Linked DNA regions of Homo sapiens: region 2 is linked to region 1. Evidence: fine-mapped expression QTL. Tissue or cell type: atrial appendage. Region 1 holds a variant in brackets; the other region holds the start of a gene. All regions are shown on one strand. Distances are between the middles of the regions.

Region 1 (2,500 bases):
TTTGCAGTGATAATTTAAGTCATCCTTAATTTTAAGAATATGATTATTCAATTTACCAGATTACTAGTGTTTTATTATTATATATAAAACAAATGAAATTACAGAACAATTATCTATATATCCTTAGATCCTGAAGTAATACACTCTGTATTCATTTGCAATCATTAAAAATTTAGAGTCAGTTTACCATCCTACCAAGTAGCTAAGTAACAACACCTCGCTTTCCCAGAGGTCAGTCTTCTTGCAACTTCAGCCTCTTAAAACAAATCCAAGAGTTGAAAAAGGATGCTGAGTGTCGAATATTACTGTACAAATCTCATGCACTAAAATCTCTTCAAAAATGAGCCCTGGGATCTCTTTCACATCCTATTTGTTTTCTTTTACATATAATCCAGATAAGCTTTCTTATTTGGCTTTTGAATGTACGTTGAATATATATTTCAATTCTATAAAAACTAAATACAAAAAAAAAAATCCCTTTCACTTTTCATTGATAACTGCAGGACTTATCAACTAATAACCCAAAAAACAGCAAAGGATAAACAATTCAGAAATTAGAACCAAAAAATAAAGCAAAGCTATCTATCACCATTTGGTGTGTTAACAAGGAATCCCACAGTTTTCACTCATTAGTTTCAAAAGTTGCTCCCGAGCAGGTACTGGTGTTTATAAGATGGTGACCATGAATGATAAGAAAAATTAAAATTCTTTTTAAGACAGTAAAGTATAGAATAAATTACTAAAATATTCCTATACCAATTTTTAACATTGAAACTGTCTTGGCACTTTAAAGGATAAGCTTCAGTTTAGGTGGGAGACCCACACCTACAGAAAAATCTATTTTAAAATCGACCCAGTAAGTGGGGAGAAGTTATTTTGGTATTTAAAGTTTATAAACGGATGGTTTAGTTCCCCAATCTTTTAAAATACTACCATTAGTAAATATATTACAAAGCAACATATGTTAATACTCTCTAGATTATGTCCTTGCCTGTATTCAATTTCACATGACAGTATGTGGAAAAATCAATTTACTTAATTTTAAGCTTGTAGGGCTTCTTTTAGATAATGTTCAAAACTATAAACAATGTAGCAACTGATCGTCTTCTAGAATGAGTCTGATAAAAAGTGAATTATGTAATTCTTGAACTTGGAAAAGGAGGAAAAATACATCATAGCATAGAGTTACTTTAAAGCTTTAATGTTGGCCAAGGGAGATTAAATTGCCTTTGGGGTGTACAGATGCAGAAGATTCCGTTGGTGTGCTTTTCAAAGCAAAGACAGATGATATTAGGAAATAAAGCATGAGGGCTTCTGCTTTAATCTGTCCACATTAATGTTTTGATCT[G/A]TGACTAATTGGAATTGCAAGTAGGGTTCAAGAAGATTCTCAGCCAATCTGAGGCTAGCAGACATGTAAGTCTCCCAAAAATGCATCTAGGAAGATTGCTTGACCACAAATGAAAGAACGTGTGAAGAATTGTTCTAATTTAAGCCTGTTAGTGCATCTAATTCAAAATTAATATGGAATAATGACACAAAAATGACAAAAAAAAGTTGGCTATCAAGAAAGAAGGAAAATAAACTAAAATATACTATACAATCTCCAAAATTAAAACACTGTTCCCTTTATACGTCTTTAATTTAAAACAAAAGAAAAAGAACTGCCACCCAAGAGATTTACTAAATCCAAAGATGATGTCATTTCCCTGCTTAAAGTCCTAGAGTGGCTCCCAGAGCCTCCAGGATAGTCTGAACTTCTCAACGTGACATATGAGGCCAGCTTGATCTGGCCTTGGCTGTTGATGCTTTTCAGGCCTCCTAATGGGTCGTGTTGCAACACAAGCACTTCCATTCAACTATGCCAATCTATTGTAGTTTCTGCAGAACAGCCTGCTCTCTTATGCTGCGACGCTCTTGTACATGCTGTTCTCCTACCAGAAATGCTTTTCCTTCTCTCACTCATCCCCCCCTTATCATAGCTGATATTTCTTTTCAAGACTCAGTTTAAGTGTCAGGGCCTCTTGGAACCCTAACAAAAGAAAGGTTGTGATTAACAGTTTAATATAAGTAAAAAGAAAATTCTCAGAGAGTTTAGTGGAAGAAGAGATTAATTCCTAATCAGCTAAGATCTAGGAGAGATTTTTATGGGAATATAGATTTTATATTAAATCTGAGAGGACAATGAAACTTTTACCATTTTTATCTTACTTAGAAAATGAAGATCTTTATTCTATACATCCTTTCCTCCTTGGACGAACCTTGAGAGTTAGCTTGGAGATTCTAACAGGATAGAAAAATCACTGATATGTTGGGGATTGACACGCAGGGTTCCTCTGTTAAGGAAGGTTGTCCTCTTTGAGCAGAAGGTTAAATGGGGGCTCACATATGAGGGAATATTAGGACACTATCCAGCCAGCCAGATTAATAGGTGGACAGTAAATTCACCCAAACCCACCAGTTCCAGTGGTTCGCTGGAACACCAACCACTTCGTCTGAATAC
Region 2 (2,962 bases), 35 kb before region 1:
TGAGAATAAGCACAGAGTAGCAGTGAATGTGGTATACATAGGGAAAAGTGAAGGAAAAGGGTGTCCAGAGACGCGGGCTCTCTGTACTGATTGTGCGGAAACCGGAGTTAACTCACAATTTTCAGTGGCACTAGCACTGTCAAGTGCTTTGTTTGTTGTTTGTTTTTTCACCCAAGAAAGGAAGATGTTCAGACTACAGATTGTGGTCAAGAAATTATATATTTTAGGTGAACAAACAGCGAGGTTTGGACATGAAGGAAGGCACATACACTGCACAGAGAAACAGCTCTTCCCAACTCTAAAATTTAGACGTTTATTTGGGAAATTTTGTTGGGCAGTCTAAATGCAGGAAGATTAAAAAGGACTTGGAAAATCAACAGGGTATCCTGCCTTCATGATGCTGTGAGGCATTGTGCCCCAGAGTGAAAACTGCATTTTTGTGAGTTGGTGTGGCAGGCTTGGAATACCACCTCTTTCAGCAGCTCACTCAGGTCTGGCGAGGGCTATTTGTACCTCAACGAGGGCTTCTCTCCAAGAAAGCCCTGAATCCTTTTCCTCCTTTTTCCTGCAGATTCACTATAGGACACTTTTTGAAGCAAGAGCATGCATTTTCCCCCTGGCGCTCTGCAGCGGTTCTCAGAGCCCAGTGTCACTCACATAGGTGGGACTGCTCTCAGTTCAGAGAGCGCTGGGACACTTAAGATGAAAAGTCCCTGGAAGTTAGCAAACAGCCATCTGTCACTCTGGCATCGATTTACTAAAAGTGACTTCTAGGGTATTCTAAACCACTTTTAAAAAACAAATGAGTCACTTCGACTTCCTCACCCCGCAAGAGATAGGAAGGCAGCAGTGGAGTGCTCGCTCAGGAGCTGTATTTGTTTAGCGATTAGCCTAGAGCTTTGATTTTAGGGCAAAAGCGAGCCAGACAGTGCGGCAGACGTAAGGATCAAAAAGGCCACCTATCATTCGCCGGGGACGCCTGCCTCCTTACCCTGATAACGTAACTATTTCTCTGCATAGGATTTTAGTTTTTGTGTTTTTGTTTTGTTTTATTCTGTTTAATCACTTCAAGTATCTCATCCATTATTTGAAGCGGGCTCGGAGGAAACGTGCCGCATCCTCCAGTCCTTGTGCGTCTGTTTAGGTCTCTCCGAAGCAGGTCCCTCTCGACTCTTAGATCTGGGTCTCCAGCACGCATGAAGGGGTAAGGGTGGGGGGGTCCCCTATTCCGGCGCGCGGCGTTGAGCACTGAATCTTCCAGGCGGAGGCTCAGTGGGAGCGCCGAGAACTCGCCAGTACCGCGCGCTGCCTGCTGCCTGCTGCCTCCCAGCCCAGGACTTGGGAAAGGAGGGAGGGGACAAGTGGAGGGAAAGTGGGGCCGGGCGGGGGGTGCCTGGGAAGCCAGGCTGCGCTGACGTCACTGGGCGCGCAATTCGGGCTGGAGCGCTTTAAAAAACGAGCGTGCAAGCAGAGATGCTGCTCCACACCGCTCAGGCCGCGAGCAGCAGCAAGGCGCACCGCCACTGTCGCCGCTGCAGCCAGGGCTGCTCCGAAGGCCGGCGTGGCGGCAACCGGCACCTCTGTCCCCGCCGCGCTTCTCCTCGCCGCCCACGCCGTGGGGTCAGGAACGCGGCGTCTGGCGCTGCAGACGCCCGCTGAGTTGCAGAAGCCCACGGAGCGGCGCCCGGCGCGCCACGGCCCGTAGCAGTCCGGTGCTGCTCTCCGCCCGCGTCCGGCTCGTGGCCCCCTACTTCGGGCACCATGGACACCTCCCGGCTCGGTGTGCTCCTGTCCTTGCCTGTGCTGCTGCAGCTGGCGACCGGGGGCAGCTCTCCCAGGTCTGGTGTGTTGCTGAGGGGCTGCCCCACACACTGTCATTGCGAGCCCGACGGCAGGATGTTGCTCAGGGTGGACTGCTCCGACCTGGGGCTCTCGGAGCTGCCTTCCAACCTCAGCGTCTTCACCTCCTACCTGTAAGTACTTCCCCACGTCACTCCGGGAGAGAGACTAAGAGGGGAAGGAAGGTTCGTCCAAGGCGAGGCTGGAGGCTCCTCGGCGCCCGCCTGCTCGTGGGGGAGGGGGGCGAGTTTGTCAAGGGCATCCTGGCCAGGCCTGTTAGGGCCCCCAGAGAAATGCACGTGTCTCGGGGAGTAGCGTGCCGGCACTTTCTGGACCCGCAGAGAAATGGCTTCGAGTGCAACCCGGGAAAGCGCTGCTGCGCCGCAGCTTCCCAGTCCAGCGCTAGAAACATCGCAGGGCGAATTCCTGCAAATGCAGGCATTTGCGTGCGGAGTGGACATTTGTGACCCAGAGCCTGGTACCCAAAGGCAGGCTGCCATCTGGTCCCCGCCCCAACCGCCTCTCTGCGTCTAGTCGCATTCCACGAAAAGATGGTCTGTAGAAAGTTTCCCCAAAGGAGAAACAACTTGCCCAGCTCCAAAGGGTTTTTAGTCTGCATCCCTTGCACTGTGACGTGATGTAACCTTTTTGGGGTTTTTTCCTCTTTTCCTCCCTTCCTTCCTCCCTTCTTCCTTCCTTCCCTCCCTCCTTTCTTTTTATTTTCTTTCTTTTTTAACGGCGTGATTAAAATGTGGCAACCACAAACCCCGATTAGAGCTGCCAGAACGTTATCTTTACCTTTGGCTGCCCGCGCCGCCCTTTGAAGTGCCCGCGGCCGCTGTGTAATCTTTAACCATCTCTTCCCCCGGGGAGGAAAGGGGAAGTGGGCTGAAGGCTGTTGGGCTGGTAAACAGCGGCACCGACACCCAAAGGGAGACCTGAAGCTCTCTATCATCCCTGGGGGATTCTCCCACCCCTTCTCTCCCCACTGCAACTTCCAAAGCCCTGAGGCGGCGGCTCATTGCGTAATTTTTTCTGTGGAAAACCCAGGCCCGAAGGTAACAGGTAGTTGGGTGAACGCGGTGACCCAGGAGGAACCCTATTCTCGGAGACCAAGGCGACT

The links.
Region 2: it holds the start of LGR5, and the variant in region 1 is fine-mapped to the expression of LGR5 in atrial appendage (GTEx, PIP above 0.99).

The regions. Positions count from the first base shown.
Region 1 is chr12:71,473,684-71,476,183 of GRCh38, forward strand. All of the region lies in intron 1 of LGR5 (leucine rich repeat containing G protein-coupled receptor 5), which reads left to right. Among named protein-coding and RNA genes, the nearest start is that of LGR5, 35 kb to the left of the region's middle. The variant G/A (reference allele first, on the strand shown) is at 1,349.
Region 2 is chr12:71,438,320-71,441,281 of GRCh38, forward strand. It overlaps LGR5 (leucine rich repeat containing G protein-coupled receptor 5), which reads left to right and starts at 1,479. Exons shown (of 18, transcript NM_003667.4): 1 at 1,479-1,973. The coding sequence starts at 1,762. All of the region lies in intron 2 of LOC124902962 (a long non-coding RNA gene), which reads right to left.